2 separate regions of the Homo sapiens genome follow, and region 2 is linked to region 1. The links come from fine-mapping of genetic effects on plasma protein levels. A gene starts in region 1. The other region holds a variant in brackets. All regions are shown on one strand. Distances are from middle to middle. Region 1 holds the start of GRAMD1C (GRAM domain containing 1C). Region 2 has its middle 51 kb from the start of QTRT2.

The links. A credible set is the group of variants that fine-mapping cannot tell apart. PIP is the chance, under the fine-mapping model, that this variant and not a neighbour inherited with it causes the effect. Protein levels are from the aptamer-based SomaScan assay of Sun 2018.
Region 2: its variant is the best candidate, but not a certain one, in a credible set for the plasma level of the GRAMD1C protein (Sun 2018, PIP 0.51).

What each region holds. Positions count from the first base shown.
Region 1 is chr3:113,836,627-113,842,010 of GRCh38, forward strand. GRAMD1C (GRAM domain containing 1C) reads left to right here and starts at 2,162. Exons shown (of 18, transcript NM_017577.5): 1 at 2,162-2,310. The coding sequence starts at 2,284. RefSeq lists a silencer at 2,175-2,374.
Region 2 is chr3:114,105,162-114,110,545 of GRCh38, forward strand. No RefSeq gene overlaps it. Among named protein-coding and RNA genes, the nearest start is that of QTRT2, 51 kb to the left of the region's middle. The variant C/T (reference allele first, on the strand shown) is at 2,207.

The DNA.
Region 1 (5,384 bases):
TTATTATTATTATTATTATTTATTATTATTATTTGAGACGGAGTTTCACTCTTCTTGCCCAGGCTGGAGTGCAATGGCCTGATCTCGGCTCCCTGCAGCCTCCACTTTCCAGGTTCAAGCGATTCTCCTGCCTCAGCCTCCCAAGTAGCTGAGATTACAGGTGCTCACCATCACGCCCGACTAATTTTTGTATTTTTAGTAGAGACAGGGTTTCACCATGTTGGCCAGGTTGGTCTCAAACTCCTGACCTCAGGTGATCCTCCCACCTCAGCCTCCCAAAGTGCTGGGATTACAGGCTTGAGCCACCACGCCCAGCTGCCAAAAATTATTAATTATCCATAAATGAATATCCATAAATGTATACATAAATCATTAATTATCCTGTAACATCAACTCTAATAGCCATTTCATATTCACTATTCCTCAATTGTTCTAGAATGTCTTCCCTCCCTCCCTTCCTTCCTTCTTTCCTTCCTTCCTTCCTTCCCTCTCTCTCTCTTTCTTTCTCTCTCTCTGTCTCTCTTTTCTGGAGATGGGGCCCCCCTGTTTTGCCCAGGCTGGTCTTGAACTCCTGGACACAAGCAACCCTCCCACCTTAGTCTCCCAAAGTGCTGGAATTACATGAGTTAGCCACTGTGCCTGGCTTAGAATGTCTTTTTTATAGCTGTTTGGTTGGGAACTCTGAACCCCAAATATCTGAGACAGGCCTCAGTTAATTTAGAAAATTTATTTTGTGAAGGTTAAGGACACACCTGTGACACAGTCTCAGGAAGTCCCAATGACATGTGTCCAAGGTGGTTGGGGTACAGCTTGCTTTTATATATTTTGGGCAGACCTAATACATCAATCAATACATGTAAGATTTACATTGTTTCAATCTGGAAGGGGAGACAGCTCCAAGGCGAGAAGGAGGAACTTTCAGGTCATTGGTACATAAAAAAATTTTCTGATTTGCAATTGGTTGAAAGCGTTATTATTGACTGGGAGCTGTGGCTTGCACGTGTAATCCCAGCACTTTGGGAGGCCGAAGGGGGCAGACTGCTTGAGTCCAGGAGTTCGAGACCAGTCTGGGCAACATGGCGAAACCCTGTCTCAAAAAACAAACAAACAAACAAACAAACAAACAAACAAAGTAGTTAAGCATGGTGGCACACGCCAGTAGTCCCAGCTACTCGAGAGGCTGAGGTGGGAGGATTGGTTGAGTCCGGGAGGTGGAGGTTGCAGTGAGCAGAGATTGCGCCACCGCACTCCAGCTGGTCTAATAGAGCCAGAACCTGTCTCAAAAGAAAAAGAGAAAAAAGAGTTATTATCAGTAGAAAGGAATGTCTGGGTTAGGATAAGGGGTTGTGGATACCAAGGTTTTATCATGCAGATGCAGCCTCCAAGTAGCAGGTGTCCGAGGCAATAGATGATAAATATTTCTTCTCAGACTTAAGGTCTGTGTTGATGTTAATGAGGCATGTCCAATCCCCTCTTTCATCATGGCCTGAACTAGATTTTCAGGTTAAATTTGGAACGCTCTTGGCCAAGAGGAGGGGTCCATTTAGATGGCTGGGGGTGGGCCTCGGCATTTTATTTTTGGTTTACAGAACCAAGAATCTGCAATACGTACAGCAGTTAATCAGTAACTTCAATCCTTTATTGGAAGGAACAAGAGTTTCCTGGCCGGGGGCGGTGGCTGACGCCTGTAATCCCAGCACTTTGGGAGGCCAAGGCCAGCGGATTGCCTGAGGTGGGGAGTTCGAGACCAGCCTGACCCACATGGTGAAACCTTGTCTCTACTAAAAATACAAAAATTATCCGGGCGTGGTGGCAGGCGCCTGTAACCACAGCTACTCGGGAGGCTGAGGCAGGAGAATCGCTTGAACTGGGAGGCGGAGGTTGCAGTTAGCCGAGACGGGGCCTTGGCACTCCATCCAGCCTGAGGAATGAGAGCGAAACTCCGTCTCAAAAAAAAAAAAAAAAAGTTTCCGAGCAATTCACCTTTTCGCACATTGGGGCAGGGTATGCCATTTCCTGGGAGGCACAGTAGTTTGAGGTTGGGAATAGGGAAGTCTCATTGTGACCCCTAGAAAGACAAGCCTTCAGGCTAACCCGGTAACACCCATCGTCAGGAATCCTTCACGGCCGCCAGAGGGCGCAAGGAGCTGCGGCTGGAAGTACTCGGAGGGCCGGCGGAGGAGGCGCGCGGAGCCTGTAACTCGCAGCGCGCGCTGGAGGTGGGCGCGGGGCGGTGCGGTGCGGTGCGCGCGGGGCGGTGCCGCGGCGGCGGAGGGAGCCGCGATGGAGGGCGCTCCGACTGTCCGTCAGGTAAGCCGCGGGCCTCGCTGGGGCAGGTTCCCATCTGTGGCTTTAGCCTACTTTTTCTCACGGTGATTGCTTGAACCTTCTCAGATTACAGTTAATCCCTCCCTTCCCTTTTCTTCGTGCTCTTTGGAGTAATACGGAAAGTTGTTACCGAGGAAACGGTTTCCTGTGCCTCTGCGAGCCCTTTCCCTACGGGCGGTGGTGGGGACATTTGCTTCCCTGTGGGCGTTGAGGGCTTGAATTTGGTCCCGAAATGTCCTGGTGCGGATGTCTCAGCCCCAGGCCCCCTTGGGTCAGGCCCCATGGTCGTGATTCTGACCCACTGTCAACGTTTTTTCCAGCCTTGCCCCCTTCCTTTCATTCTCAGCCCTGTTGTAAAGGTCCGGATAGTTTAAATCACTGTGCTGTCAGCCAAGTTTTTGATTTCAACTAGTCTAGTTTTATTTGTTTACTACCTTATTTGACAAAACGGAAAGCGTGCTTATTAATATTCAGGATGAAACCCCGCTTTTGTTGGACGGGCGCCTGCGTTTCTGAACACCATCCTCCTTCTACATTGGTTTGTGTGTATGTATTTTACTTTTAGAGAACTGCGGTCAGTGCTATATCTTCTGAAGAGCGTTATAGTTTACAGATTAGTGGAGGTACACAAATAATTGTTGAATGAACAGATGAATGAGTGTTATTTCACTTGATTTGAAAAACATTACTATGAAATAGTCAAGCTGGATATTCATGAACCCAATCAGTCACTGATTCAGTTATGTCCCTGGCACTGGGTGTTCGGGATTAGATGGTGATTAACACAGACATGATCCCTGCTCTCAATAAGCTTATTGTCTAGACTAGAGATAAAATTATTTCCTCTATTGTAGAGTTAAGGAACAGATGTACAGAGATTGACTTTGCTAAGGACCACACAGCTAATAAGTCAGAGAGACAGGAATCTACTGTAGCCACCCCAGAAAGCCAGAATGGACCCCCATCCCAAATTTGATTCAGGTGTAGAAACTGATGATGCCACACACACACCATGAGGTTGGAGTAGAAACTGATGATGCCACACACACACCCTGAGGTTGGAGTGCAGTGGCGCAATCTCGGCTCACTGCAAGCTCTGCCTCCCGGGTTCACGCCATTCTTCTGCCTCAGACTCCCCAGTAGCTGGAACTACAGGCGCCCGCCACCACGCCCGGCTAATTTTTTGTGTTTTTAGTAGAGACGGGGTTTCACCGTGTTAGCCAGGATGGTCTTGAACTCCTGACCTCATGATCCGCCCGCCTCGGCCTCCCAAAGTACTGGGATAACAGGCTTGAGCCACCACCGCGCCCGGCCCTGAAAAAGTCTTTTACTTACATAATTAAGGTCTCCAGGGAGAGCAAGGCAGGCCTCTCAAGCAGCACTAAAATGGCTTAAGAGAGCCTCAGGAAAAAACTGGCTCCAGGTCTTTTTTTCACCCTTGATGTTTGATGACTGACCTGCACCATTTGAATTTGAATTTGAATTTAAGTCAGCCATTGTGGCCCAGTGCAGTGGCTCATGCCTGTAATTCTAGCACTTTGGGAGGCCAAGGCAGAAAGAAGTATCGCTTGAGGACAGGAATTTGAGACCAGCCTGGGCAACAAAGCAAGACCCTGTATCTACCAAAATAAAAAAAAAAAAGAAAGAAAAATTAACTGGGCATGGTTGTGTGGCGCCTGTGGTCCTAGCTATTTGGGAGGCTGAGATAGGAAGATCACTTGAGCACAGGAGGTTGAGACTGCAGTGACCCCTGTTTGTGCCATTGCACTCCAGCCTGGGTGACAGAGACCAAATTATTTTCAGAAATTTAACCAAGGTGGTAGGCCTTACACTATGTGTGGCACAATAGCCCATCCTCCTTTTGTGAGCTCCTTTGTGAGTATGTCAAAAGACTGTCCTCAGGGGAGGATGTCATCAATGGAATGTTATACTTGTGCTCCTGGAGAAAATTTGATGCAGTTAAGATCTTTCCTGTAAAGGCTGTGTATGATGGCAAGACTGCGTACTCTATGGTTAGCCTGGTAAAGAGATGTTATGTCTCTCTGGAGGTGAAGACCAACTATGGCTGAGGAGGTGTTGAAAGAGACACTGAACAGAACATATTAGCCAAATCTATCACAGCAAAATATTTACTAGTTGTGGACTGGATAGTCAGTAATTTCAACAATGTTGAGTATAGGGGCCTTCCTGGGTAAAATGACATCATCGAGGATGCAGTAATGAACCATGAGGTACCATTCATTCTTACCAAATTTAACAGGCCAAATTGGGCTGTTAAATGGAGAAGCAGTAGGGATAATTACTTTCACAAAGTACTTCTTTCTTTCTTTCTTTTTTTTTTTTTTTTGCGAGACAGAGTCTTGCTCTGTCGCCCAGGCTGGAGTGCAGTGGCACAATCTCAGCTCACCGCAACCTCCACCTCCCGGGTTCAAGCAATTCTCCTGCCTCAGCCTCCCAAGTAGCTGGGATTACAGGCACGTACCACCACGCCCAGCTAATTTTTGTATTTTGTTTTAGTTGAGATGGGGTTTTACCATGTTGGTCAGGCTGGTCTTGAACTCCTGACCTCGTGATCCACCTGGCTTTCCCTCCCAAAGTGCTGAGATTACAGCATGGCGTGAGCCACCGTGCCTGGCTGAAGTAGGTCTTACATAACAAGTTTTAGTCCTTGAAGGCCCTGTTTTGTTTTATATTGGGTTGTATAATTTTAACTGGGCATTGAGAGTGGTGGTCCATAGGGTCTCACTGTTTTGTTTATTTTGAGACAGAGTCTTGCTCTGTCACCTGGGCTGAAGCACAATGGTGCAATCACAACTTACTGTGATCTCCAACTCTTGGACTCTGGCAGTCCTCCCACCTCAGCCTCCCAAGTAGCTAGGACTACATGTGTGTACCACTATGCCAGGCTAATCTTTAAATTTTTGTAGAGAGGGGGCCTTGCTGTATTGCCCAGCTTGTTCTCCATACTCTTGGCCTGAAGTGATCCTCCTGCCTCAGTCTCCCAAAATGTTGGGATTATACGTGTGAGCCAACATACCCAGCCTGTTGTCCCACTT
Region 2 (5,384 bases), 270 kb after region 1:
GGTTAACTTATCATTGAAGACATAAACATAAAAATGTTTTTGTAAATTTAGTGTAGCCTAAATGTGCAGTGTTTATAAAGTCCACAGCCTACAGTCTACAGTAGTATACAGTAGTGTCCTAGGCCTTCATATTCATTTATCATTCACTCATTGACTAACAGCAACTTCCAGTCCTGCAAACTCCATTCATAGTAAGTGCCCTAAACAGGTGTAGCATTTTAAAAGGTACAGTAAAAATATAGGATAAAAGGTTTTTAGGACACTAATATGATTTTTTTTTTTTTTTTTTTTTTTGAGACAGAGTCTCCCTCTGTCACCAGGCTGGAGTGCAGTGGCACGATCTTGGCTCACTGCAACCTCTGCCTCCTGGGTTCACGCCATTCTCCTGCCTCAGCCTCCCTAGTAGCTGGGACTACAGGCACGCACCACCATGCACATTTCACACTGATCTCTGCCCTCATCTTCTTGTGGCATTCTCTCTCTTCTCTCTTTCTCTGTCTCTGTGTGTGCATGTGTGTCTGTCTGCAAACTTCCCCTTTTTATAAGAACACCAGTCAGATTATATTAATGCCTACTCTAATGACCTCATTTTAACTTGATAACCTCTGTCTCCAAATAATGCCATATTCTGAGGTATTGGGGGTTAGGGCTTCAAGATATTTTTTTAGGAGAGGGGATAGAATTTAACTCATAATGATGAAACAAACTCTAATCTATATAAAATTGAAGACTGAATTAGAAAGATGAAGAGAGTATTGAGAAATTCACCCAAAATATACCCCAGAGAGACAAAGGTGTGTGTGTGTGTTTGTGTGTATTTATTCTGAATACATAGATGTGTATTTGTTTATTTATCTATTTACTTCAGTTAAGATACATGAAGGATAGATTGAAAGGTCCCAACATTCCAGCATATCTAATAGTTTTATTGTAGAAGGCATTGGTGGCTGCCTACCCAGTTGCCATTGCTTTTTCGTCATCCTTAATAGCAGAATCTTGATTTTTCTTTTCAGGAAGACAATGTGCCTAACTAAAAATACTTAATTTCTCAGCCTCTCTTGCAACAAAGATAGTCATGTGACCAGTTCTGGACAGTGAGGTAGCAGCAGAAGTTCCTAGGCTGACCATTCTTTTCTTAGTACAAAGTCAAAGTCCCATTAGGAGAAAGTGCTTCACCCCATAGTGCTTTGCCCACTGCCCCTGACCTTAAGACAGAAGTCCCAGTTGATTTTTATAGAATAATTTAACAAACCTTCAACAAACAGATAATCTCTACCTTTCAAAAAATAGTGAGGGTGTTCTCACTCATAGGTGGAAATTGAACAATGAGAACACGTGGACACAGGAAGGGGAACATCACACACCGGGGCCTGTTGTGGGGTGAGGGGAGCGGGGAGGGATAGGATTAGGAGATATACCTAATGTAAATGACGAGTTAATGGGTGCAGCACACCAACATGGCACATGTATACATACGTAACAAACCTGCATATTGTGCACATGTACCCTAGAACTTAAAGTATAATAAAAAAAAAAAAGAAAAAGAAAAATAGTGAGGAAAAGCACTCAATTCATTTTATGAGGTTATTATACTTTTGTAACAAAGCTATTAAAAAAAGACCAGTATTTCTCATAAATACAGATTTAAACATTCTAAATAAAATGTTGTGTGTGTGTATACATATGTATATTATATATATATACATACATTATTTATATATATATATTTCCCCCTCACCCCATGGCCAAGATTAATTGATCCTAAGAATAACATACAATCAATTAAGAGGAAAAAATATGGTCAATGTAATAGATACAGAAAATAGAAAGCACGTTTGATAAACCTTATGCATTCTCATACTTACTCATTTAAGGGGAAAAATTAGCAGAATTAGTGTTAGGAGGAGCAAGTTGCTATTATATAAAGTGTTCCTTTTATAGATGACATTTGAGTAGAAGAGGTGAAGGAAGAAAGCCAGGCATGCTGATATCTGGGGGAAGAATGTTAGGAATATAGACTTTAAGATGGAAGCATGGGTAAGGCTTTTCAATTTATGTAGAAACAACCAACCAAACTCTTAGCACCTATGGATAGAAGACAATACTCTTAACTGCACAAAAAGTATCTATCAAAATCTTACAAACATTAATGATGAAACTTTATTACACTATATTGTCACAACCATTCTACATTCTACTGGACCTA[C/T]GAGACAATGCAATAAGATGAGAAATAATGGAAGGTATAAAACTTACAAAGACATTCCAAAGCAGACCTTATTTGCAGTCAACATATTTGACTACATAGGAAATCTAAGAGAATCTACATGAGTTAATCAGAAAGTCATTGAATGCTGCTAGATCCAAGATCAATATAAAAAAATTGTATTTCTATATACCAGTAATAAGCAAATTGCAACTGTAATAGATAATGGTATATCATCAACAATGGCAATAAAACTGTAAAGTGTTTAGGAACAAATCATACCCTTTAGATTAGCAAATTAAGTAGTTAATTTAAAAGATTGAATACAATGTGGATAAATGGGAACTTTCATATACTGGGAATGGGAAAGTAAATTAATGCAACTGCTTTGGAGAATGCATTAGTCCATTTTCGTGTTGCTATAAAGGAATACCTGAGATTGGGTAATTTTTTTTTTATAAAAGAGATTTTATTTGGCTCATGTTTCCGCAGGCTGTACAAGAAGTGTGGTGCCAGCATCTGCTTCTGGGGACAGCCTCAGGAATCTTTCAATCATGGAAGAAGGTAAAGGCAGAGTCAGTGCATCATATGGTGAGAGAGGGAGCAAGAGAGATGGGGGGACAGCCCAGCACGGTGGCTTACGCCTGTAATCCCAACACTTTGGGAGGCCAAGGAGGGCGGATCACTTGAGGCCTGGAGTTCCAGACCAGCCTGTCCAACATGATGAAACCCGGTCTCTACTAAATACAAAAATTAGCCAGGTGTGACGGCGCACGCTTGTAATCCCACCTGCTTGGGTGGCTGAGGCGGGAGAATCGCTTGAGCAGGAGGCAGAGGTTGCAGTGAGCTGAGATCGCGCCACTGCACTGCAACCTGGGTGACAGAGCGATTCTCCCTCTCCAGAGAGAGATGGGGGGAAGTACCACACTCTTTTAAACAACCAGAACTCAGAGAGGGGAACTCACTGATCACCAAGGGTTTGGCACTAAGCCATTCATGAGGGATCCACCCCCATGTGCACAGTTCACAATAGGGTTGGTGCTCCTATGAGAATCTAATACCTTTGCTGATCTGATAGGCAGTAATGCTTACTAGCCTGCTGCTCACCTCCTGCTGTGCAGACCCATTCCTAACAGGCCATGGACCAGTAGGGGTCCGTGGCCGAGGGACTGGGGACCCCTGTTCTACAGAATGTTCAGCACACATGCTCAAGGATACTTATGCAAAAATATTCATTGTAGCTTTTCAAAACAATAAAGATTTGATAACAAAGTAAATGAATATCACAGGAAAATACTATGGTTGTGTAGCAAATAAAATAAATAAATGAACTACACTTACGTATATCAATTTATGTGATAAAAGCAAGTTTCACATAAAAAAGAATAGTGCTTAATATAAAGTTTAAAAGCATGAAATCCAATATTATAGAGATACATGTGTATGTAACAAAACATAAAGTACGATGAAAAGGGGTAAACATTTGGCCGGGCGCAGTGGCTCACACCTGTAATCCCAGCACTTTGGGAGGCCAAGGCAGGTGGATCATGAAATCAGGAGTTTGAGACCAGCCTGACCAACATAGTGAAATGCCATCTCTACTGAAAAAACAAAAAAACAAAAAAACAAAAAAACAAAAAAAACTACAAAAATTGGCTGGGCGCGGTGGCAGGTGCCTGTAATCCCAGCTACTCAGGAGGCTGAGGCAGGAGAATCGCTTGAACCCTGGTGGCAGAGGTTGCTGTGAGCCAAGATCATGCCACTGCACTCCAGCCTGGGCAACAGAGTGAGACTCCATCTTAAAAAAAAAAAAAGGGGTAAACATTTAATGCCAGAAAGGGATTTCTTATGGGCATGGGAGGAGGAAAATGTTATAGGAGTTTACATATATTTGTAAAGTATCCCTTCTTTTAAAAGATTTGAAATGACCAAATGTTAATGTTTGATAAAGCTATTAGATACAGGTATTCTTTTAAGTATTCTGAGCTTTTGATATATTTTATAATATTTTCAAAAGTGAGATGATCTTCCAGGAAGCTGACATTTTTTATCTCATGGACCACATCTAGTGTTGCAGAACTTAGGGTTTCTGCCCAGTGAGTACTCCAATTCTCTCTTAGTTCTCTATCTCCCCTTTGGGAGTTAGTTTGGTCAAACCTGTGTAATCACCAGGGAAGCACAACAAAAGCCAGCTATTTATTTGTTCTCCCTATGGCTTTTCTTTTTTTTTTTCCCCCTAACATGAATTAAAACTCGTGTTCTGGTTTCTATCCCCATGACGTTGCTCATCAATTGACATTATTAAGCAAATACTTCAAGAACTTTGAAATTTCTCTTCCAATTCCTCAGGGCGTGGCGATAATTGTGAGTGGAAAGACAGTGAGGTGGGATTACCAGGCAAGCTTTTGTTTTCTTCTTGATTGAAAGGATTTACTCCTCTTTTTAGCTTCTCATTGAATCGTTTCTTTCTAACAAGTATCTCACAGCTTTTCTCTCTCTTTTCCTAAAGCACAATTTAATTTATTTTTATCTGATAAGGCATTTTTTAAACTTCCCTTCTATGTCTACTCCACATAGAACAACTTTGCTTATCCTACAGAACCTTTGCGTCCTCATTTTACCTTCCTCTGCAACTCTTGAGCAAGCCCCGCCCTTGTCTCCACGCCCTCCATCTTGGTCTCCCAGATGTCTTTGTCTTTATTATATTTTCAAAAGTGAAACAAATCAGTTAAGAAGACAGTGATATTTCTGTCTCTCGAAAACCCATTTCCTTGGCCTTTCCTTTCTCTTTGTTTGGGTGGGAATAGGACAATTTTTGATTTAAAAAACTCAGAGTTCCCAGCTCAAAATCCTCCCTAAAGTTAATTCATTCCTGCCCAGTTTTATGTTCAAAAATCCTGTCCTTGATTTTTTAGGCAGCATACCTATGATTAAGCATACACAGTGAATATCCTTTTACATATGAATCATGCTTTCCAATGTATATTTCTTTGCACATTAATTTTTTCCCCAATAGTTCTGTGAAGTAGACAGGACAGAGAGAATTGCCCTCATTTTACTCCTGAGGAAGCAGAGGCATAGAGACATTTACTCCTTAGAGTTTGTCAGCTGAAAAAGGTAGACTTTAATTGAAGGCGATAGAAGCAGGACAGTTAGGAAACGGAAAAGCCCGGCTGCCAGG